7 linked regions of the Homo sapiens genome follow. The protein of the gene in region 5 purifies or fractionates together with the protein of the main gene of each other region. This does not show direct contact. Each region holds a gene or a part of one and is shown on either strand. Other genes may lie near its edges.

The links.
Region 1: the proteins of ATAD3A (region 5) and PRORP purify together in Homo sapiens (tandem affinity purification; one large-scale study listed by IntAct). This does not show direct contact.
Region 2: the proteins of ATAD3A (region 5) and L1TD1 purify together in Homo sapiens (co-immunoprecipitation; one large-scale study listed by IntAct). This does not show direct contact.
Region 3: the proteins of ATAD3A (region 5) and MRPL23 purify together in Homo sapiens (tandem affinity purification; one large-scale study listed by IntAct). This does not show direct contact.
Region 4: the proteins of ATAD3A (region 5) and E2F3 purify together in Homo sapiens (pull-down; one large-scale study listed by IntAct). This does not show direct contact.
Region 6: the proteins of ATAD3A (region 5) and GUF1 purify together in Homo sapiens (tandem affinity purification; one large-scale study listed by IntAct). This does not show direct contact.
Region 7: the proteins of ATAD3A (region 5) and FASTKD2 purify together in Homo sapiens (tandem affinity purification; one large-scale study listed by IntAct). This does not show direct contact.

What each region holds. Positions count from the first base shown.
Region 1 is NC_000014.9:35,265,552-35,269,051, forward strand, and holds part of PRORP (mitochondrial ribonuclease P catalytic subunit isoform 1 precursor), read left to right. Parts: intron 1-1,175; coding exon 1,176-1,324; intron 1,325-3,500.
Region 2 is NC_000001.11:62,201,349-62,204,848, forward strand, and holds part of L1TD1 (LINE-1 type transposase domain-containing protein 1), read left to right. Parts: intron 1-2,098; exon of another isoform or gene 2,099-2,209; intron 2,210-3,500.
Region 3 is NC_000011.10:1,950,332-1,953,715, forward strand, and holds part of MRPL23 (large ribosomal subunit protein uL23m), read left to right. Parts: intron 1-567; coding exon 568-690; intron 691-1,795; coding exon 1,796-1,878; intron 1,879-2,450; coding exon 2,451-2,524; intron 2,525-3,384.
Region 4 is NC_000006.12:20,408,379-20,411,878, reverse strand, and holds part of E2F3 (transcription factor E2F3), read right to left. Parts: intron 1-3,500.
Region 5 is NC_000001.11:1,518,662-1,522,161, reverse strand, and holds part of ATAD3A (ATPase family AAA domain-containing protein 3A), read right to left. Parts: intron 3,242-3,500; coding exon 3,172-3,241; intron 2,022-3,171; coding exon 1,856-2,021; intron 1,615-1,855; coding exon 1,545-1,614; intron 1-1,544. UniProt on the Homo sapiens protein: Essential for mitochondrial network organization, mitochondrial metabolism and cell growth at organism and cellular level. May play an important role in mitochondrial protein synthesis. May also participate in mitochondrial DNA replication.
Region 6 is NC_000004.12:44,691,920-44,695,419, reverse strand, and holds part of GUF1 (translation factor GUF1, mitochondrial), read right to left. Parts: intron 1,009-3,500; coding exon 907-1,008; intron 1-906. UniProt on the Homo sapiens protein: Promotes mitochondrial protein synthesis. May act as a fidelity factor of the translation reaction, by catalyzing a one-codon backward translocation of tRNAs on improperly translocated ribosomes. Binds to mitochondrial ribosomes in a GTP-dependent manner.
Region 7 is NC_000002.12:206,772,106-206,775,605, reverse strand, and holds part of FASTKD2 (FAST kinase domain-containing protein 2, mitochondrial), read right to left. Parts: intron 3,426-3,500; coding exon 3,286-3,425; intron 1,382-3,285; coding exon 1,209-1,381; intron 1-1,208. UniProt on the Homo sapiens protein: Plays an important role in assembly of the mitochondrial large ribosomal subunit.

The sequences.
Region 1 (3,500 bases), on a different chromosome or scaffold from region 5:
AATGGGGATAAAGTAACTGACTGGAAAGTAGGCTACAGGGTAGAAATCGACAGATCTTTAGTAGAAAAGGGGATTTCAATGAAAGGAGGCAGTATTAGCAATAAAGTCATAACATAGAAAAGTCACTGTCTAGTCTAATCATTTACAAACTTAAAAAGAAGTAGAAGCTTTTATTCAAATCAAAACTTATGTAGAATACCAATATGATAAATATATAAAGGTTGAGCCGTTTGGGTCGAAACAAGGTTTGACATGTATAGGAAACAAAATCCCATCCCTCTTGAGCCTCTCTATCTCTATCCTAGTGGGCCCTAGAGAGCACAGTTTAAAACAGCTGAACTAGGCTGGGTGCAGTGGCTCACACCTGTAATCCAGGTGCTTTGGGACGCCAAGGCAGGAGAATTTCTTGAGGCCAGAAGTTCAAGACCAGCCTGGGCAGGATCGTGAGATCCCATCTCTACCAAAAAAAAAAAAAAAAAAATTAGGCCAGGCATGGTGGCTCATGCCTGTAATCCCAGCACTTTGGGAGGCTGAAGCGGGTGGGTCACCTGAGGTCAGGAGTTCGAGACCAGCCTGACCAACATGGTGAAACCCCGTCTCTACTAAAAATACAAAATTAGTTGGCTGTGGTGGCGCATGCCTGTAATCCCAGCTACTTGGGAGGCTGAGGCAGGAGAATCACTTGAACCCAGGAGGGAGAGGTTGCAGTGAGCTGAGATCTCGCCATTGTACTCCAGCCTGGGCAACAAGAGTGAAACTCTGTCTCAAAAAAAAAAAAAAAAAATTAGCCAGACGTGGTGCACGTCTGTGGTCCCAACTACTCAGGAGGCTGAAGTGGGAGGATTGCTTGAGCCCAGGAATTCAAGGCTGCAGTGAGCTATGATTGCACCTGTGCACTCCAGTCTGGACAGCAGAATGAGATCCTGTCCCACACACAAAAATAAAGAAACCCCCCCCTGCAATGTAGCCTGACCAGCAGGCAGATGTTAGACATTAATGTGTAATAGGGAAGCATTTTCCTCAGGCTTTCAAAGATGGGAAATTATTGTGGATTGTTTTCTTACCCCCTACCAGAAAAGAGTGCTTCACCATTGAGGTGGCCTGCTGGAAAAATCACTCCACTAATTTGAGAGTCTTCCCTTGAACTTTTGTGGTTCTGGCTTTGTGTTTTTTAGCTCTTGAATGTCGTCTCTCAACTAGCCAAACGGAATCTGCGACTGCTGGTCCTAGGCCGGAAGCACATGCTAAGACGGAGTTCCCAGTGGAGTCGGGATGAGATGGAAGAGGTGCAAAAGCAAGCCAGCTGTTTTTTTGCTGATGACATGTAAGTGTTGGAGGTAATAGGTGAATTATACTGTGCTGCAGACATCTATCTGCTTGTTAGTTACCTACTTTAAACCTATCTTTTAAATGCATGTGTATGTGTATACTCACCCTCATTAAAAAAAAAAAAAGATTTGAGACAACTTACAAAACTACGGTTTCTTCTAAAAAAGAAAAACACTACAGTTTCTACGGCAGGATAAACTTAAACAGATGAGGAAATCAGGATAAAGGAGAAGTGGAGGGAAGTTAAGTCAGGAGTGAGATTAGTACACCGAATACATGCCATAAGATCCTAAGTAGATCATTTAGCAAATACTTGACAAACAGGAGCACCTTCTATGTTCTTGGAGAAAGAGCAGTGAAAAAGACAAAGTCCCTGCCCTCTTAGAATTTACAATAAACAGATAAACAAACAGGTAATGTCATTCCAGGCAGTGATTAGTACTATGGGGACAATAAAGCAAGGTAGATAGAATTTAGGTAAGGGATAGGTCAGAGGGTTGTGAATGGGGTGGTCAGGAACAGCCTTTCTGAGGGGGCAGATTCGATGAGGAGTGAGTTATTTGAGAAATGGGGAGAGGTGGTGGGAAGACCATCCCAAATAATACGAAATATTTAAAAAGCCCCGATGCAGGCCGGGCTCAGCCTGTAATCCCAACACTTTGGGAGGCCGAGGCGGGCAGATCACGAGGTCAGGAGATCAAGACCATCCTGGCTAACGGTGAAACCTCATCTCTACTAAAAATACAAAAAATTAACCGGGCATGGTGGCGGGCGCCTGTAGTCCCAGATACTGAGGAGGCTGAGGCAGGAGAATGGCGTGAACCCGGGAGGCGGAGCTTGCAGTGAGCCGAGATCGCGCCACTGCACTCCAGCCTGGGCAACAGTGCGAGGCTCCATCTCAAAAAAAAAAGGAGCCCAAAGGAGCCCTGAGGCAGGCATAAGCTTGGCATGTGTTTGAGGAAAGCAACACGGCCAGTTGGGCTATAATAGCAAGAGGGAAAGTAATAAGCTCTGAGATTAGAGAGAAGGCAGAAACCGCAATGCAGAGGACCTTGCAGATCCTGGTAGACAAGCAAGAGGCCTAGATTTTATTCTAAGTGTAGGGAGAAAATTGCTGTTGAGCTGCAGCTTCCCAGGAAGCCAAAGGAACCATGGTAAACATGGTCAGTAACAAAACCTACAGTAAGCCAGCCACAGTGGCTCATGTCTATAATCCCAGCACTTTGGGAAGCCAAGGCAGGCAGATCACTCAAGATCAGGAGTTTGAGACCAGCCTGGCCAACATAGTGAACCCCATCTCTACTAAAAATACGATTAGCCAGATGTGGTGGCACACGCCTTGTAGTCCCAGGTACTCGGGAGGCTGAGGCAGCAGAATCACTTGAACCTGGAAAGCCGAGGTTGCAGTGAGCCAAGATCGTGCCACTGCACTCCAGCCTGGGTTACGGAGTGAGACTGTCTCAAAAAAAAAAAAAAAAAAAAACAACCCACAAACCTACAGTAGCCATAAAGTAAGAAGAAAATAGCTAATTAGGAGGAGTACAGATCCGCAACAGCACATATGAACTCAATGCACTGTTGTGCATTGAGGTTTTCATATTGTTTGTGCTAACAAAAGTTTATTTCCAACTTTGCTTAATGAGTGTATATGCCTCAGCCCCAAATCTAGGTTTCATAGTCTGAATGTGATAACTTCAAGATTTGTCAGTATTCTCCAAATCATTTATTTTATTGAGACGGAGTCTCACTGGGTCACCCAGGCTGGAGTACAGTGGCACAATCTTTGCTCATGGCAACCTCCACCTCCCGGGTTCAAGCGATTCTCCTGCCTCAGCCTCCCAAGTAGTTGGGATTACAGGCACCCGCCACCATGCCCAACTAATTTTTGTATTTTTAGTGGAGATGGGGTTTCACCATGTTGGCCAGGCTGGTCTCGAACTCCTGACCTCATGATCCACCCACCTCAGCCTCCCAAAGTGCTAGGATTACAGGCATGAGCCACCTCGCCTGGCCCCCAAATCATTTATTATTTAAAAAGTACAGTAGCTCTCAATCATAAAGCAAGGGAGAAGCAAACCTCTCATCCAGTTCCCAAACCACATCCCTTCTTTTTTTAGCTGGAAGATGGTGCTTCCATTTCTCCAAGAGCAGAAGACCTAATGGCAACATTG
Region 2 (3,500 bases), about 61 Mb from region 5:
CAAGTCAAGTAGAAGTCTATTTCACCAGGGAGAGCTCAGTGGTTTTCCTTAAGGATTTTCAGTTTAAAAAAAAATATTAGAAGCATTATCAGGCTAGACCCGGTGCCACTGCACTCCAACCTCGGCGAGTGAGACCCTGCTTAAAAAAAAAAAAAAAAAAAAATTAGCATATTCAAACATCAATAAAAGTAAGAACTCATCACCTAGATTCAAAAACAAATATTTTCCCCCATTTGTTTAATCTCTCTTTTTTCTTTCTTAGTTGTTTGCTGTGTTTTAAAGTAAATCCCAGACATCATGCCATTTCACCTGTAAAAACTTCAGTATGTAGCTCTTATAAAATAAGGAGACTTTCTTAACTAAATACAGTATTGTTACAGTTAATAAAATATATATTCCTCAATATTTAATAATCAGTCCATATTCAGTACTCCCTGCATTTTACAGTTGATTCATTCAAATAGAGATCCAAAATAGGGGGAGCGTACATTGCATCTAGTGAATTCCCTTAGTCTCCTGAATGAGAGTGGGCCCCTTTATTCCTGTTGAAGTCCTGTATAGGGTCCTATGGACCTGTCCGGTGGACTATTTGGTTGCTTTCTCAGTCCTTGATTAGATTCAGACACTACTGGTGCTGGGTTTTTAAAATTTACTTAATTAAGAGGGATGAGGCTGGGTGAGGTGGCTCACGCCTGTAATCCCAGCACTTTGGGAGGCCGAGGTGGGTGGATCACCTGAGGTTGGGAGTTCGAGACCAGCCTGACCAACACGGAGAAACCTTGTCTCTACTAAAAGTACAAAATTAGCCAGGCGTGGTGGCACATGCCTGTAATCCCAGCTACTTGGGAGGCTTAGGCAGGAGAATCGCTTGAACCTGGGAGGTGGAGGTTGCGGTGAGCCGAGATCATGCCATTGCATTCCAGCCTGGACAACAAGAGTGAAACTTCATCTCAAAAAAAAAAAAAGGCTGAGGGTGAAATGTGTAATTAATATTGATTCCTTCTCTTTTTTAGTAATCATTTACATGTTTTACATGTTTCCTCTTTTGACCTTTACTCTGGTGTAATCAAGATTTTCTGTATACATTTGTCCCCCTTACCTCCTGTTGCTCATATTTTGGAAGTTACTTTGTGATAAATGAGTGCCGTGTTTTTTAAACAATTTTTTGTAACTATCATGCTTTTTTCTTTTTCTTTTCTTTTTTTTTTTTTTTAGCTGTTCATTTAAAATTTTTTATTTTTTATTTTTTTGAGACAGAGGCTTACTCTGTAGCCCAGAGGCGTGATCTGGGCTCATTGCAACTTCCACATCCAGGGTTTAATTTTTTTTTTTTTTTTTTTTTTTTGAGACAGAGTCTTGCTCTTTTGCTCTTGTCGCCCAGGCTGGAGGCAATGGCACGATCCCAGCTCACTGCAACCTCCGCCTCCTGGCTTCAACTGATTCTCCTGCCTCAGCCTCCTGAGCAGCTGGGATTACAGGAACCCACCACCACGCCCAGCTAAATCTGTATTTGTAGTAGAGACAGGGTTTCACCATGTTGGCCAGGGTAGTCACGAACTCCTGACCTCAGGTGATCTGCCCACCTCGGCCTCCCAAAGTGCTGGGATTACAGGCATGAGCCACCTCACCCAGCCTAATTTGTTTTTTAAAAAAACTGGAGATGAGGTCTCACTGCATTGCTGAGGCTGGTCTCAAACTCCTGGGCTCAAGCAATCCGCTCACTCACCTCGGCCACCGAAAGTGCTGGGATTACAGGTGTGAGCCACTGCGCTTGGCCTGTTTTAAATTTTTATGGTTACATAGTAGATGTATATATTTATTTCCATACAGGCATGCAATGTGTAATAATCACATCAGGGTAAATGGGGGTATCCTATGCACTACCTCAAACATTTATCATTTCTTCTTGTTACAAACATTCCAATTATACTGTTTAAGTATACAATAAGCTATTGTTGAGTGTAGTTACCCTGCTGTGCTATCAAATACTAGATTATTTTTGTACCCATTAACCATCCCTATTCCCTACATCCACCCACCTACTACCCTTCCCAGGCTCTGGTAACTATCATTCTACTCTCTTTTTTTTTTGAGACAGGGTCTCACTCTGTCGCCCGGTACAGTGGCGTGATCTTGGCTCACTGCAACCTCCACCTCCCAGGTTCAAGTGATTCTTATACCTCAGCCTCCTGAGTAGCTGGGACTACAGGTGCGTGCCACCACGTCTGGCTAATGTTTTTTTTCTTTTGAGACGGAGTCTCGCTCTGACGCTCAGGCTGGAGTGCAGTGGCACGATCTAGGCTCACTGCAAGCTCTGCCTCCCAGGTTCATGCCATTCTCCTGCCTCAGCCTCCCAAGTAGCTGGGACTGCAGGTGCCTGCCACCACACCCAGCTAATTTTTTGTTTTTATATTTTTAGTAGAGAAAGGGTTTCACCGTATTAGCCAGGATGGTGTCTTATCTCCTGACCTTGTGATCCACCTGCCTCGGCCTCCCAGAGTGTTGGGATTACAGGTGTAAGCCACCACGCCTGGCCTCTGCTAATTTTTGTATTTTTAGTAGAGATGGGGTTTCGCCATCTCGGCCAGGCCGGTCTCAAAGTCCTGACCTCAGGGGATCCACCTGCCTTGGCCTCCCAAGGTGCTGGGATTCTAGATGTGAGTCGCCGTGCCTGGCCTTTTTTCGCTATTCTCTAGAAGAGTTTGGGCACAGCTAAGATAATAGTTGCTTCTAAATTTTCTGATTTAATTATGAAAGTTGAATGGTGCTCCCATTTTTGAACCATGCTTTATCTGTAGTTGTGTCCCCTTGTTATTCATAGTATTCCTTATTTGTATTTTGGTTTTGTTAATTCTCTATAAGTTTCTGTTTTTCATTTCTTTGATTTGCGCGCATCTCTTTTGGTTTCTTGGGTAGATTTTGCCCTTGATCTGGTAATTTAACTTTAATTTTTATTCTTTCTAGAAAATTCTAAAATTTTAAGTCTATACATTTTCCTCAAAGCACCACTTTAGCTACATTCCCCAAGTTTTGATAGGTAGTTATCATTTTGATTTAGTATTTTAAGTTTCTCCATTAGTTTGACTGAATAGTCATTTTAAAATTTAAATAACTTTAACCTTTAGTATTTAAACATTAAACATAGAAGTTTTTAAGTTTAATTTATCTTTTACTTTTATGCTATCCTTTTTCCTGATTCAATTTTTATTGCAATGAAAAATTTCTGAAATTATTTTTTAGAAACAGCGTCTCACTATGTTGCCCAGGCTGATGTTGAACTTCTGGGCTCAAGTAATCATTCCACCTTAACCTCCCAGAGTGCTAGGATTACAGGTGTGGCACCGTGCCCTGCTTGAAATTCTTGGTTGGGTGCTGAGCATATATCTTTTGCCCTGACAAGAATGACATTTTAGCTGCTTATGTGATTCTTATTTTGCAGGGGAGGGGACAGGGTCTCACACTGTCACCCAGGCTGGAGTGCAATGGTGCGATGTCAGCTC
Region 3 (3,384 bases), on a different chromosome or scaffold from region 5:
CAACACACGTCTTTGAGCCTTGCCATCAGCTTATTGGGGGAATGCTGTCTGCGGGGTTCTGATTTTTGTCCATTGGCCTTTTCTAAAGTCTGACCTTGGGGGTCAACAGCGCATGCTCCTTAAGTCGATGCTAGGGACTGGCCGTCCACCTTGGCAGGCCCATGTGAGAAAGGGGCTGTGGGGACCTCTGTGTCCTTGGGTGGTGACCTGCTGATAGCTACCCCGTTTCCCGCCCACCCCTGTTGTGAGTGGACACGCGGGGGTCTGCAGGGTTAGCTACCCTGTTTCCCGCCCACCCCTGTTGTGAGTGGACACGCGGGGGTCTGCAGGGTTAGCTACCCTGTTTCCCGCCCACCACTGTTGGGAGTGGACACGCGGGGGTCTGCAGGGTTAGCTACCCCGTTTCCCGCCCACCACTGTTGGGAGTGGACACTCAGGGATCCGCAGTGTTAGCTACCCCCTTTTCTGCCCACCCTGTTGTGAGTGGACACTCGGAGGTCTGCAGGGTTGGTGTGTCGGGCTGCCTTGGCCTAAGTGTGTGACATGGACCCAATCTCTTCTGTACAGGTACCCCCTGTACCGGCTGGGTGGCCCACAACTTCGGGTGTTCCGAACCAACTTCTTCATTCAGCTGGTGCGGCCCGGTGTGGCCCAGCCCGAGGACACCGTGCAGTTCCGGATCCCCATGGAGTGAGTCCGGGAGGATTCCGGCTGGGGTTGGGGAGCACCCTCGGGGGGATCCCCGTGGAGTGAGCCCGGAAGTTTTCCCGCTGGGTTGGGAGAGTGCCCTCAGGGGGGCCTGGGTCCTGAGTTAAAACAACTCTGCTCACGTGCTAGCCTCTTCCTGCTGGGAAGGCACCTCAGGCGGCCCTGCCCGGCAAGTATTGATGGAGTGCCTGTAGGTGTGGAGCCCGGCAGGCAGGCTGCACGCCGCCCTCCACCCGGGGACGGCTTCACTGGAAGCCTTAAAATTTGGACCTCTGTGCTCGCGTCTTCTGTTGAGTTCTTGCAGCTTCTTTTTAGGAGAGGCGCCCTGAGAGGCTGGGTTGGGAGCAGGCCGTGATGTACAGAACCGCTCAGAAGAGCCTGCTTGACCTTCAGAGAAATGCACAGTCCCTACGAGCAAAACTGGGGTGCTGCTCTGCAGTGTTTAAGTTCACAGGTCCCCAGCTCAGGGTTGATGCGAGCCAGGCGGGGCAGCAGCGTGAGCTCCCCTGGGGGCGAAGGTCAGGCCTGTGCAGCCTGCAGGGGCCCAGAAGCTGAGTTGACAGTGACCGTGAGGTTCTGCAGTAGAGGGAACTTGCAGTTAACGCACCGAATGCCAGGCAGGCCTTTCCAGAAGGTACTTCCTAGAACCGCATCAGTCCCATCAGCCGCAGAGCAGGCCTAACCCTGATGCGGCCACTGGGCCCCGGGGCAGACGAGGTGGGGCACCTGCCAGCCAGGAGCGTGCAGAGACTGTCACCTCCTCTCACAGGCACTTGCCCGGAGCAGGGAGCCATGTGGGGCTGTGGAGCAGGCCAGGGGTTGGTTGGGCAGTGCTCCCACTCTGTGGGGTCTGTGCCACTGCCACCCCATGCTGGTGTGCCCAGAGTAGGGAGTCTTGCAGCCAGCAGCACTGGTGTTGCTGGGGCTGCCTGGCCTCACTAGTGCCGCTGATGTACCCAGCCCTCCTCCCTGCCCCCTGTGGGTCTTGGTCTGTCGGCCTCTCAGCCTCGGGTGCTTGTGCATCTGGGACAGTATTTTTGGCTTTTAGCCTGGTTAAGATGCCGTTTTCTTTCTCCTTCGCCTCCAGAATGACAAGGGTGGACCTCAGGAATTACCTCGAGGGCATCTATAACGTGCCCGTGGCTGCTGTGCGGACACGGGTGCAGCATGGTGAGTGCCCATGGGAGGTTCTCCTGTTGGTGTCGTGCCCATCTGTGCCACATGCCCACCTCGCCGAGCCACAGCCTCAGCTACTGCATGGGGGTCTTGGTCTGACGTGGCTCATGGGAAACTGAGGCACAGGGTGACTTGTCAGGGTCACACGGTGCTTACGTGCCAGAGCAGGGATTGGAATTCAACTGGGCTGGCCCGGGGTCCATTCTGAGCCCTGACTCCTGCCGTCAGCCCCCGAGGTGGGACTGCAGTGGCTGAGGCTGGGGAGCAAAGCGCTGTCTGTTCCATAAGCCCCTGTCGTGTGCCCTGGCTGGTGCCACGTCCGCTCCTTTGTTGAGAACCTGCTGGCCTCTGTTGGGAGAAGGGAGGAGCCTGGGAGCCTGCTGTGCTGGCTCGTTTGATTACAGTGCCCATTTCCCTGAGAAATCGCCTTTTTGAGTTTTTAAAAACATATTTACATTTTTAAGAGAGCAGAGGTTCGTTTTAGTGGCATTGACCTCTGAGGATGTAATTTTTTAAAGTTCTGATTTTTTTAAAGTTCTGATTTTTTTTTCACTCCCTTCCGGCAGGCTCTAACAAGAGAAGAGATCACAGAAACGTGAGGATCAAGAAGCCGGACTACAAGGTCGCCTACGTGCAGCTGGTGCGTGTGAGCTGGCCAGCCCCAGCGGGGCCTCCGAGGGGCTCCTCGCAACTGTGTCCTTGGGGATGTTTGTGCCGGAGACGCTGCGCTGGGGCCCAGGGAGCCCCCGTGAGGCCGGATCTCAGGGCCTCAGCGCAGAGGCAGGCTCCACATAAGGTCATGCTCCGTCACGGCCTTGGGGGTGTTAGTGGTGGCGCTGGGAGCACGTGAGCACTGGGGCACATGGGGCACGTCTCAGCGTCCGGCCGTTTTGTGATTTTGAAGTTTGAATTCTCTGTGGGCAAAGGCAGCCATCACAGGCCTAGTGGGTTTCAACTCCAACGCACACCAGGGTGTCAGAGCATGGGAGGCCCCGGCCTCTGGAGAGCCTGTCCTTGGCTGGGTTTCAGCCTCGGAGGCAGAGTGTGAGGCCCCTGAGGGCAAAGGTCTTTGGTGCCAAGGCAGGTCTGGCTGGCCGGGCTGTTGGCTGAGGCCCATGTCCTGCATTGCAGGGTAGCAGGTCCCACGTACTTGTTAGGGCTCAGCAGGCTGCTTCTGAGCAGGTGCTTTCTTACGTATCCTGGGGGGCTCTGGGGAGGAAGAACCCTCACCCCACGTTGCCTGGGCCTTCAGTTTCTGAAACCCAGACTTGTCAGGAGTGAGACCCACAGTTTCAAAGCCTTTCTTTGGGCTCTTCATTTTGAGTCCCAGGCAAACCCAGAGGCACTTTCTCTCTGGGCCAAGATGTCCACAGCCTGCCCCGGCCGCCTCCTGGGCCTCCCCACTCTGCCCCTGGGGCTGGCCTTACTGGGTGGGGATGGGGTTGTCTTCCGGTGTAAATGGTCCCTGGAGGCCGAGCCGGCGGGCCCTGCCACTAGATG
Region 4 (3,500 bases), on a different chromosome or scaffold from region 5:
TTTGGAGGAGGAGTAAGTCATGAACATGCAAGATTAGGCTACGAGGCAGACCATGAGGTGTTACAGGAAAGAAGCAGTAACCCAAGGGAAGGGAGAGGCCCAAGCCCCTGGGAAACTGGGGGAGGCTGTGCCTACGCCTTCCCTTGATGTGGGCCTCAATGGGCCAGTGGGAGGAGGGCAACAAAAGGAGTAAGGTGGAGAGGGAGAAGCTACGAGCAAACACACCAGAGGGAAATCTGCGGTGCCTGCAGCACCACACTGTCGCAGCAGCCGAGTGCAGAGGAATGGGAAGCAAGACCGAAAAGGCAAGATTTCACCATCCCTTGATGGCAGGAAAAGGTGGTAATTAATTTGGTAAGTCCGGGAAGCAGCCACTGAAGGTGGCAAGTCTGCTTCCTTCTAAGAGCCAGGCAGAGGGCAAGGCGAAGGGGAAGGGGTAGGAATAGATCTAACATAAAAAAGGAGGGGTGAGGAGATGAGAAGGGAAAAGGGAGGCCTAGAGGCAGGTTCCATTGCCTCTGGAGAGCAAGACAACCCCCCGCCCTGCCTTGATATACACACACTGGCAGGGGCTCCGAGTCTGGCAGGGCCCAGCAGCTCAGACACCCTGATTCTTGCCATTCAGTCTTAAGCCATGGTTTACTGTACAGGATTGAAATTATGTTAATAGTGTCATTCATGCTAGTAGTGTCACTTTATTAATACATTTAATCACAGAAATAAAGGTTTTATTCATGACACTATCACTACTGATAGCACTACTACAAGAAGCTTATTCTTCAGTTCTTTTTCCCAAGTCAATGGGCAGCTTATAAAGAAATACAAAGACCCTAGACCCTAAAGACTGCATTAGGCGAGAGCCATTCCACGGTTTACTTCTCCTTCCCATCATCACCATTTTTAGAGAGGTGCAATGGGGTGAAATGAACACTAAGGGCTAGTTAAGAAAATAGATCAGGCCAGGAACAGTGGCTCATGCCTACAATCCCAGCACGTTGTGAGGCCGAGGCGGGCAGATCACCTGAGGTCAGGAGTTCGAGACCAGCCTGACCAACATGGTGAAACCCCGTCCCTACTAAAAATACAAATAAAATTAGCTGGGCGTGGTGGCGCACACCTGTAATCCCAGTTACGGGGGAGGCTGAGGCAGGAGAATCGGCTGAACCCAGGAGGCAGAGGTTGCGGTGAGCCAAGATTGCACCATTGCATTTCAGCCTGGGCAACGGAACAAGACTTGGTCTCAAAACAAAAACAAACCAAGAAAATGGATCACAAAAGGACAGCCCATGAGATGCCTGTGGAAGGAAGGGCAATTATACCATGTTTCTACTTAACACATAATCCTTCCTACGTGCCAGACACTGGTCTAAGCACTTTACAAATAAGAACTCATTGCAACTTCCTAACCCCATAAGGTAGGTACTATCATTCCTCCCAATTTACAGATGAGGAAATGAAAACATAGAGGCCAAGTTTCTTGCCCAAAGTCACAGGGCTAGTGAGCAGAGCCAGAACAAGAACACAGGCACTCTGGCTCCAGGCTAAGTGGCCTGACCTTATACTCAGCTGCCCCTCACTATGCCTTTTAGGACAGGGTGCAGGTTATAAACACATGAGCCTCCTTCTCTCCAAGGGACTGCCAGATGCAGAAAGGCACACAGGAGATAGTGTGGGCCTCAGGGATGCTGCTCTGGTTATGTATCAGAAATGGAGCCCCCAAAGCATCAGAAATGGGGAAGAGCAGAGTGGAACGAAATATACAGACCCTGAGTTCACTGCCCATCATTCTCAGAGTCCAGAGCTACCACCCTTCAGGATCATAAAAACTAGAGCAGGCAGAAGCTCTCCTCAGCAGAAAGTCAAGAGGCATTCAAATCCTCCACTCTCTAAGACAAACTCTACTCGCCAAAAAACTTTCCAGAGGAAATCAGCTTCACTGATTACTACTCTCATCAGTTGGTACTTAATGCTCACTGGCTGTTAGACCGTATCTACACTGGGCACCTTTCTGGTTTGTGGATTACAGATAAGCCATATATCGCTGCCCCTAACGAGTCAGTGCACTACAGCCACGTTAGATTATGTTTCACTTTCAGGCCTCAGGGCTTGAAGCAATTCTATTTTTAAGCTTTCTCAGTTCCAAAAAGGAAAAGAAGGCATTTTAAGGAAATTAGCGTTGGCTAAAGGAATGACAATTTCCTCTTAAAGAGTTAACTGATTAGCCACTTTGCTAAACCAGAAATCTTGGAGCTAACCACAGAGGAAGAACACCTTGTTCAATGTTACTGGGCAAGGGCTGGGGACCTCTGAAAGCATGACAGTCACTCAGGATGTTGGTGGCCCAGGACAAAACTCCGTTACTACCAGAGGGGCACTGTGTGTCCTTCTCCCCAAGAAAGTCTCAAAAATCCTTTTAGATTCTATTCTCTATGAAGCATGTGTCACTTTTTGAGCAACAGAATTGATATAACCACAGAAGACAAATTTGCGAATATCAAATAAATCTTTAAAAATATTACTATCACGTTTTGAAGAGTCATTCTTTCCTTTTTTAAATAATTCCCTTTCATTTAACATCCAAAGTAGCCTTGCTTATTTTGTATCTTTGGGAATAAGTCATTACCCCCACAGCCAACTGTTTAAAGGACACTTCTTTATGTGCGCATTTTTAAAAAAGGTAACCACTCCTGAAGGAAATCTAAAATGTGTCCTACACACCCCAATTTTCCCATATAGGGTTCATGAGACACAGTTAACCTTCTCTTGGTGAATGAGGCTTCTAAGAATTCAAGAGTCTCCCGTTTCGGTTTTGGCTTTGCCACTAGCAAAGACCTGTGACCTTGGGCAAGTAATTTAACAGCACTGGGCCTGAATTTCCTCACCTGCAACATGAAGGGGATTGGGCAGATGAGGACTCTTGTGCCTTACACTTCTCAAATGTTATGATTCCAAGACCAGTGTAAATGCCAACTATTGCCCATGCCAACCTAGAATATCGTTCTCAGGGACTGTCAAGTTCTAAGAATGTTGTCTAGACCACACAAATGGCCCCAGAGAGTTGGGCTACGGTAATGGAAAGCAGACTAAAGTCAATTATTTTTTATTCTTTTTGTCCCCTTTCTATTCCATCAGCTGCCAATTCTCACTGCTTTCTACCTCGAGCTGACATAAACCCCTGCCTTAGTTTACAAAGCTAAGTGGGGGCCTGCATCACTTAGATTCTTCATCAAAGCAAAGTGCATCTGGCTGTGTGATACAATCTGGCAACCAGTGGCCTTCATCACTTCTCCTTCAAAGTTACATTGCATTGGATAGGAGAGTATTTGAGGGCAAAAATTATATTTTTTAAAAGTTATATTGTAGACAAATATGGTGGCCATAAGACTGACCCCCAGTTAAGGTTGGGGAAAGAACGTACATTCCTTGAATTCCAAAAACACATTGCTTTTAGAGGAGAGGGTTTGAAACAAGTGTGAACAGAATATAAACCAATTTCCCTC
Region 5 (3,500 bases):
AGGCTGAGGCAGGAGAATCTCTTGAACCCGGAAGGCAAAGGTTGCAATGAGCTGGACCCGCGCCACTACACTCCAGCCTATGCAACAAGAGCAAAACTCTGTCTCAAAAAACAAACAAACAAAAAATGAATTAGGCCAGGCCCGGTGGCTCACCCGTGTAATCCCAGCACTTTGGGAGGCCAAGACGGCTGGATCACTTAAGGTCAGAAGTTCGTGACCAGCCTGGCCAACATGGTGAAAACCCATCTCTACTAAAAATACAAAAATTGGCCGGGCCTGGTGGCACAGGCCTATATTAGCTGAGTGTGGTGACGTGAGCCTGTAATCCCAGTCACTTGGGAGGCTGAGGCAGGAGAACTGCTTGAACTGGGGAGGTGGAGGTTGCAGTGAGCCGAGATGGCACCATTGCACTCCAGTCTGACCACAGAGCAAGACCCTGTCTCTAAAAACAAACAAACAAAAGTCATCGGCGCATTAAGCAGCTCCGTCATGTCCTCACGTGACACGGTCTCACCAACATGGTGGCAACACCACCTGCAACATTCACCGTCACACTGACCAGGCCACCGGCAGGCGCTGCAGTCACAGCTCTGGGCGCCGGCACCACGGCAGAGCAAGTGCCCACTCAGTGCCGGGCACCTACCGTGTGCTGGGCGGGGTGGGGACGGAGGACACAGCCATGTGGGACGTGGGGCGCCACCACAGCAGGCCGGAGGCTGGGCACAAAAGAGTGAGGCTTTAAACGAGAGAAGAATCTGTGAACTTCAAACTCTCAGGGTTTTATAAGGAATAAAGAAGGTTTTTGCAAAATGGAGTCAGGGTTGCCTTCTGGTTTTTTTTTTTTTTTTTTTTTTTTTTTTTTTGAGAAGAAGCCTCACTATGTGGCCCAGGCTGGAGTGCAGTAGCGTGATCTCGACTCACTGCAAGCTCCGCCTCCCGGGTTCAGGTGATTCTCCTGCCTCAGCCTCTTGAGTAGCTGGGACTATAGGCGCCCGCCACTGCGCCCGGCTAATTTTTTGTATTTTTTTAGTAGAGACGGGGTTTCACCGTGTTAGCCAGGATGGTCTCGATCCCGATATCGTGATCCGCCCGCCTCTGCCTCTGCCTCCCAAAGTGCTGGGATTACAGGTGTGAGCCACGACTATCGACAATTTTTTTCTTGAGACAAGGACTTTGTCGCCCAGGATGGAGTGCAGTGCTGCGATCTCAGCTCAGTGCAGCTGCAACCTCCCTGGGCTTAAGTGATCCTCCTACCTCAGCCTCTTGAGTAGTGGGACCACAGGGGCTGCCACCACACCCAGCTAATATTTGATTTTTTGTAGAGATGGGGTCTCACTGTGTGGCCCAGGCTGGCAACTGCGTTTTCTTCTCCCAGCTTGAGAAGGGAGGAGAAGCCGAGGCCAGCAGGTACAACGTGGGCTTCCTCCCTGCTGGGAGAGCTACAGGGCTGTGCAGAGCCGGCAGGGACAGGACCTGGGGCTCCAGGAGGCCCCCACATGCTGCCCCTCAGCCACCTGCCAGCCCTGTTTTATGAGTATGTTTACCGTGGCTGTCACTTTGTCCCAGTCTGTCACAAAGGCACGGAATCCTTCCCCAAACAAGGTGCCAGCCGTCCTGCGGGGAAAGCAGTGGTGTGACCAGGAAGGACACGAAGATCCGTGCCACGCAGCGAGAGCAGGTTGAGGGTGAGGCCCTGACATGGCGGCACGGCCTTGCCAGGACAGAGGGGCAGTGCCCCCACCAAGGAGTCAGCCTACGGCGGCAAGGCCTGGAAGAGCTGGAGAGCGCCCTGGGACCAGCGACTCACACCTGCGGGGCTCCATCTGTGGCCGGCCCGGGCCTCGGCAGTGCTCACCTGATGGACTCCAAGACGGTCTGACGGTGCTCGGCCGCCTTCAGGCGGATCTGCTCGCGGATGATGTCTGCATTCTCCCGCTCGGCCTTGGCGCGCGCCCGGGCCTCGGCCTCCACTCGCAGCATCTCATTCTTGTGCCGCAGCTCCATCTCCCGCTCCACGGTGGCTGCCCCAGAGAGGCAGGGCAGCTCAGCACCATGCAGTGCAGCGCGTCCACCTCCACCCACACTGTGGACCGGCCCACGCCACGGACCGGCCCACGCCACGGACAGACCAACGCCACAGACAGGCCCATGCCACGGACCGGCCCACGCCATGGACAGGCCCACACTGCTGACAGGCTAAGGCCACGGACAGGCCCACGCCACAGACAGGCCCACGCCGCCAATAGGCTAAGGCCACGGACAGGTCCATGCCACAGACACACACAGACCTTGGTAGGGACAGCGCCACAGGCCGGCCCTGCCCATGGATTAGGGCAGAAATCCGACCCAGAGGCCTAGGCAACTTCTCAGGACGAGCTCTTTGAAGCAAAAAACCAGAACGCGGAGTTCTGAAGGAAGCCCCCCTCACACAGAAACACAGCTGTCAGAACTCAGACACGCGTGACGTGCCACGTGCCTGGCTACTGAACATTAAACGCACACACCTCGCCACAAGCCCACCCACGGTGAAGAGTGGTGACAGACGTTTGCCTGGAGCACTCGCCAACAAATGCCACATGGCACCAAATACCTGTGATCCCCACTGAAACCAGGACAGTAAAGACCCATGTTCTAGGCAGAACGCAGAGGCTCACGCCTGTAATCCCAGCACTGTGGAAGGCCAAGGCAGGCGGATAATGAGATCAAGAAGTTCAAGACCAGCCTGGCCAACACAGTGAAACCCTTTCTCTACTGAAGATACAAAAAAATTAGCTGGGCGTGGTGGCGGGAGCCTATAATCCCAGCTACTCGGGAGGCTGAGGCAGGAGAATTGCTTAAACCTGGGAGGCAGAGGTTGCAGTGAGCTGAGATCGTGCTATTGCACTCCTGCCTGGGTGACAGAGCGAGACTCCGTCTCAAAAAAAAAAAAAAGGCCCCTGTACTTCCCATGAAGTGAAGCAGCTCCTGCCCTCCCTGAACAGATCCTGGCGTCCACTCGCAGACAGAGGTGTCTTCCGAGAGGCAGCCCCACCCCGCGGAGCCCCAGCAGGCCTCGCCCACTGCACTGGTAGCTATGAGGGGCCGGGCGGCAGAACTCAGGCTCAGAGTGCACGCCGGGTCCACAAGCAGCCCCCGCCACCTCCGCCCCAGCCAGGAGAGCAGACAGCCTACCTCGCCGCATGGCTTCCTGCTTCTGCACGGACTCCTCCTGCTTCCGTAAATTCTCCTCATTGAGAAGTTGCTGAGAAGAAGCCGCAGAAAAAGAGAAAAGCCTTTAAAACCTGTGACTGTGCCCATGTGTGCGGGGGATGACTGTGCCCGAGTGTGCAGGGGGGTGAGTGTGCCCGTTTGCGGGGTGTGACGGTGCCCGTTTGCGGGGGGTGACGGTGCCCGAATGTGCAGGCGGGTGACTGTGCCCATGTGTGTGGGGGTGATTGTGCCCATGTGTGGGTGGGTTGTGCACCCGTTTGGGTGTGTGTGTGTGTGTGTGTGTGTACCCG
Region 6 (3,500 bases), on a different chromosome or scaffold from region 5:
TTAGAAATACAACATTAGACAATAGAAACTGTTCTTGATTCTCTTTCCTTACCCGCTGAAAACGGTTAAACATTTTGGAATGATTATTTTAAACAGTTATCTTTCTAATCACTTTTTTGCATTTTTTTGTATGATCAGTGTTTACGATATATTCTACCCTCTTTATATTTAACAGACATTTTTATGTCACTAAATATTACTCCACAAGTTTTAATGGCTGAAAATAACAATATGGGTGCTTTGTAATTCATTTTAACCAATCTGCTGTTTCTTGAACACGTGGGGGTTTTCCTTTTTATAATTTTTTTACAAATATAAAAGGGCGCGGTGGCTTACGCCTGTAAATCCAGCACTTTGGGAGGCCGAGGCGGGCAGATCAGAGGTCAAGAGATCGAGACCATCCTGGCCAATATGGTGAAACCCCATCTCTACTAAAAATACAAAAATTAGCCGGGCATGGTAGCATGCGCTTGTAGTCCCAGCTACTCAGGAGGCTGAGGCAGGAGAATTGCTTGAACCCGGGAGGCGGAGGTTGCAGTGAGCAGAAATTGCGCCACTGCACTCCAGCCTGGCAACAGAATGAGACTCCCATCTAAAAAAAAAACAAAACAAAACAAAAAAACTTGTTCCCAATTCTAAATCCATCATTATAAAATGTTTAAAACTTTTTTTAATATGGTGAAGGGAAACATTTCTATGACACTGTTCTTTTTGACTATTATAGCTCTGTTCTATTTTTAGCAGTCTAGAGAGAAGTGTGGAAAAAAAAGAGAAAGCAAAGTTAGTAGGGTGAACTCTATTTTAATTACCTTAGAAGTTTTTTAAATGCAGCTGCTCAAACAAAAATAAATGAAAAACATATCAAAAGTATTTTCACATTCCATGATTAGTTTCTATTGAACTTACTTGTGTACAACAGTTACTAGCTCCTCTACAGTATTTCCATTCAGTAGAATATCCATTTTTACAAGTTCTGCAGTCTGGTAGCCTGCATCTTCGTAATCAAAACTAAAAGGAAAAAAGTCCAAGTGATAAATATTACACTTCCTGAGAGATTACCTTTATTACTCTTTACTCTTTACTAAATGTCTACTTTCTACCGCATTACACTCCCCAAAGAGATATGTTTCCATCAAAATATTACATATACAGTTTCTTGTGAATGGATCTAAATGTTATCTTTTTATGTTTATTAAATCAAGGGCAAAAGCAAGGGGAATATGTTTATAGGGGAAAGGAAAATAAGCTGGTGAACCTGACAAAGAAAATGGTTTATTGAAGACAAATATCATGCCTTCCCAATGTTCCCAGCAGCTGGGAGGCTTCGGACAATACTATATATTATTAATGGATCATTTTCAGATTCATGAGTTGGGTTTCTGTTTAACTTTCTATTACCAATGACAACTCTATGTTTAAATAAATGCTATGACACTCATAAAATGCCATTAATAAATGAGACCTTTGGATTTCCTATTTGGCTCTTCAGCTTGCATCTCCCTTCACAGGGCTTTTGTGAGGATTAAATGAGTTAATACATGTAAACCAATTAGAGCAATGCCTAGTACATAATAAGTGTTTAAACAGAGCCTAGCTTAGCACACACAAGCACTTAGTTTCAGCTATTACTTTTAACAATGTGGTCAAAGCTTGTAATGTTAGTCAAAACAGACATTTAAATGTTTCACTTATAAAACTGAAGTCTAAAGAAAATTTCAATTAGGCTTACAAGTTGTCCCAATCACAGACAAGAATATGTATACTCCTATTGTCTTAATTTTAAAACAATTGGTGCCTGGACTTGCAAAATTATATTTGGTTTCTAAAGATTTTCAGCAGGAAGGTCATAAAGTGACAATAATACACTCTATTAACAGATTATTTTCAGAAGTACTGTTAAAATCCTTTCTTTCTTCAGGAAGCATCACTTATACATTTACTGTATGAAAGATACCATGTTAAGTATCATACAGAATACAAAGCAAATAGAGAATAAAACAGACATGGTCCTTAACTTTGAAGTTGTTACAGCTCCAGCTATGTTGTGGTCCAAAATATTAAAAATCTTAAAAATTTCTTAACTCATTTTTTCAAAAGAAATCATTATAAAAATTGTGTTTTTGTTTCCAAGCAGTCCAATTGATACCTAACCTCTATTGAAAACATAGGTATTCTAGTGTTTCCTTAGAATGCAGGAAACACATTTGTAATTCCAAAAAGCTACTAGTTGCTGTTGATTCTTGCCTCCTGGTATGAAATAAGTTTTTTCCTGATCTTAATTCATAGTCTATGATGACTTTCTGTTAAGTGTGGAATTGACTGCCTATGTAAAACATCCATCTTGAACATAATTACCTTAATGCTGGAAGCTGGAATATTTTATTTTTATGTAGTTCAAAAATAAATCATGTTCTCTCATTAAATTCAAAATGTATTTAAGTTTCCAAACGACAAGGCTTTTTAAGACCACTTATAATTCAGAAAGTAGTACCCAAATGCAAACTAAAATTGACAGACTTCTGTTAAAAATATTTATAAACATTAAACCTACTAATCTTCCTTTCAACTCTAGTAATTTTAATATGCCCCTCAATTCATTTTACTTTAAATTCCATTGCCACTTACTTGCTCAAGGTCTTGTCTGAAAGAAGACATAGAAGAAGAAAAAACTGGGTGACAAAGTAGAAGAAAATTCTCAATACAAAGGAACATGAAGATTCCTTGGTAAGAAGAATTATATATGCTAACTCTCTTCACTGACAAGATGATTAAATAAAGTTAAACTTCCAAGTCACTGTAGCATGTTTGTTAAACACTGGAATTTGTCTCTGCATGTTAACATTAACATTCATGCACTGTGTGGGAGTTTTATAGATGTCAATGTTCATTTTTCCCCTCCTGCTTCCCCATGTTTCACATCTGTTTTCTATATATACTATCCCGTAACATAAGATTTTAGGGCATAGTGAGGGTATCTAGAGTTATATGCCCCAACAACAACAACAACAACAAAAAACAGCCTCTCAGAATGCTATGCCCTGAGTTTCTTATTTGTTATTTAATAGTAACTCTCCTTTCACTTTTATCTGGCTTTTCTCCATGTACTCCTATGAGATACACAAAGGTTTTCGTGATGAGGACAACCTGTTCCTCAAAAGACTAAGTTATTAAAGTGTTCACTAATGGAGCGGCACATCTAACATTTTTTACAGACTGAATATGCACTTTTATTTTTCAAATGTAAATAGATGCTCTTGAGATTGCATAACATAAATATACATTTTAAAAGTGCCACTGAGGTTATGGTAAATTTTTGAAATTAGGTCTAATTCTTAACAGACAAGGAATACAGCTCTTCATGAAAAGGGGACTAACTTTTTTTGTTAAAAGAGAAATAAAAGTTAGATAATAAATCAAAGGAAACTTTTCTCCTATAAGCAAATCACAAGTAGTCTGTAACACCTATAAAGTTGTTCCAAGTCATTCTAACCTTAGAGTAT
Region 7 (3,500 bases), on a different chromosome or scaffold from region 5:
TCAGACAAAGACACATCAAAAAAAACAAAAAACAAACAAAAAAACTACAGCACAGTATCTCTGATGAAGATTGATGCAAAAATCCTCAAAAAAAATACTAGCAAACCAAATTCAACAATACATTAGAAAGATTATTCATTATGACCAAGCAGGATTTATCCCTGGGATGCCAGGATGGTTCAACATATGCAAATCAATCAATATGATACATCATATCAACAGAATAAAGGATAAAAACCATATGATCATTTCAACTGATGCTAAAAAAAAAAAAGGCATTTGGTAAAAGTAGAACCCTTAGTAAAAGCAGAATCCCTGTATGATCCAGGGATCTCACTTGTGGATATATTTCAATTCATAAGAATTGAAATGAGAATCTCAAAGAGACATCTGCACTCCCATGTTAAGTGCAGCATTGTTTGCAATAGCCAAGATAGGGAAACAACCTAAACATCCATCAGCAGATGAATGGATAAAGAAAATGTGATATATACATATAATGGAATATTATTCAGCCTTAGAAGGAAATCTCATCACATGCTACAATGTGGATCAACTTGAAGGGCATTATGCTAACTGAAATAAGCTAGTCATAGAAGGACAAATACCGCATGACTCCACTTATATAAAGTATCTAAAAAGGTCAGTCATAGAAACAGAGATTACAATGTTGATTGTCAGGGGTGAGGAAAGGGGGAAATAGGGGAGTTGCTATTCAACAGGTATAAAGTTTCAGTTATGCAAGATGATTAAGTCCTAGAGATCCACTGTACAATATTGTTAACTATATCATTAATAATAAAGTCAGCAATATTGTACTGCACACTTTAAAATTTACTAAATGTTCTTACCATAATAAAAAAAGTCAAATTTTTTAAAAGACAGATTTCTCCATTTTTTAATACAGTTAAAATAAACTATGAACTTAGGAGCTACGAGGATAAGCTGGGAGGGTTTGAAATCAAACTCCTATAATGAATTAACTAATACATTATAAAGAACAAAGAAACAAACAAGACAAAGGGCAGCAAATATAAAACAAAATTTTGTTTAACCTTATAAATGAGTAAGGAACACTATGTTTTATTTATTGGCATGGATGATGACTATGGGTGTGTTCACTTGTAATAATTCATTAAGCTTATGATTTATAACCTTTTTTGTAAGTTATATGGCAATAAAAAAGGTAAAAAAAAACAAGTACATACTCTTTGTTCTGGCATTTGTAGACATGATTGAGAGAAGAGTAAGTATGAAGAATAGATAGAATGTTTTTCATGTTTAGGGATTCAGGATCCTCTACTATTCTCTTCATAAACAGGTCCATTAAACCAACAGGTCGAAAGCCAAGGTTTTCAAATAAAATGAGGATAAAAAGAACCTTAAAAAGAGAAAATTGAGGGAAAACTCTATAATAATTACAGTATGCTAATAGTAATTTTTTAGATCTCAAAAAATCTAAGCAGCAATTCAACTGTCCTGATCAACAGAATATATCCTGAAACAGAATATTTCCATGAAAAGGAACAATCATCTTTCTCTCACAAAATCTGTTCTATTAATTCTTGAATTGGGTATCAAGTTAATAAGCAATCTTTTTTAAGCTGAGAACCAGGGCATACAATGATTTCTACGTTTCCATCTGATTTAAAAATAAATCTCTTCCTACATGCTTTTCATACAACATATCTGAAAATTACTTTTAAATATGCCTTTTCTGAAGGTTTTCAAAATGACCAACTCAATCTTGAACTTCTCGCATTCCCAAACTTAAATACTTCCTAGATTCTAACATGTAAGACATAACCCCAAAATTTCTATATTTAATATTCATACCTATAAGTGAAAATGGAACTGAAACATTATGATTAAAATAAACTTTCAAGTTCACCTCCAATTTCCTTCTCAATCTTTCTTACTTAGGATTATTACTTCTCTTTCTATAACCAATTTCCACAGTAAACTCAATATTTACCTTACTCTCCAAAATAAACTGAACCTAGAGATCTAACAGTTATCACCTATTTCATTGCAAAAAGAAGTTTTTACCAGGTGCTTCATTAAATGTTTATATTCTTAACACAGCTCCTGATTTTAAAGGCTTTTACTCTGGATAAAACAATGGACATGACCATTAAGTAGTGACATTTTATTCTTCAAAAACCCCAAGCCTGTCACATCACCCATCTTTATTATTTGAAATCTAACAAGAACAAAGTATAAACACGGAAATCATGCTAAATATCTAACAAAAGTACCATACAACCCTTTTTTTTTTTTTTTTTTTTTGAGACAGAGTTTTGATCTTTATTGCCCAGGCTGGAGTACAGTGGCACAATCTCAGCTTACTGCAACCTCCACCTCCCAGGTTCAAGTGGTCCTCCTGCCTCAGCCCCCCTAGTAGCTGGGATTACAGGGACACGTCACCATGCCCGGCTACTTTTTGTATTTTTAGTAGAGATGGGGTTTCACCATGTTGGCCAGGCTGGTCTTGAACTCCTGACCTCAGGTGATCCACCCACCTTGGCCTCCCAAAGTGCTGGGATTACAGGCGTGAGCCACCGCGCCCAGCCCATACAACCCTTTTAAAACGAAAAAGAAGAGCAAATTTTTGTTTCAAATAGAAAGATGACCAAAGGATAGAATAGTATACAGATTGTCCTTGACTTACGGTGGGGTATATCCCAACAAACTCACCATAAATTGAAAATATTTTAAGTCAAAATGCATTTAATACATCCAACTTACTGAACATCATAGCTTAGCCTAGCCTACTTTAAACACGCTTAGAACACTTACATTCACCTATAGTTGGGCAAAATGAGTTAACAAAAAGCCTATATTATAATAAAAGTGTTGAATATCTCAAGTAATTTATTGAATACAATATGCATTGTTTACCCTCATGATTGCACAGCTGATTGGGAGCTGCGACTTGCTGCCACTGCTCAGCATGAAAAGAGAGCATCATACAACATATCACTAACCCAGCAAAACAACAAAATTCAAAATTCAAAGTATGGTTTCTACTGAATGCGTATTGCTTTTGCAACATCAAACAGTCAAAAAATATTAAGTCAAGCCATCCTAAGTTGGGGACTATTCATATTAGCAAGTAGCCCCCAGACAGGAATAATAAGGAGCTAATTTTTCAAAAGTCAATTCAGCATTGGAATATTTTGGTATCTTAACTACTATAAAGGTGAAAGAGAAATACTTAAAATGCTACATGAATTAGTGTTTTAAAAGTTTGTGAGGCTTATTCTAAATTGTTAATGTACTCACTTTTCTGAACTTCCAGATGTCGAAAGTTGCAGCCACATAATCTGCAAGTCCCTTGAAGAGATCCAAATTATGGTACTGGAGGTCTTTGCAGGACTGCAATATGTTGATCATTATTCTTAAAGGACACCCATGGATATTATCTTGAAGAATGAGTTAAATAAACAAACAAAAATTACCTGATTGTTTTGAATACAACATGCTTTATTCTTTTTTCA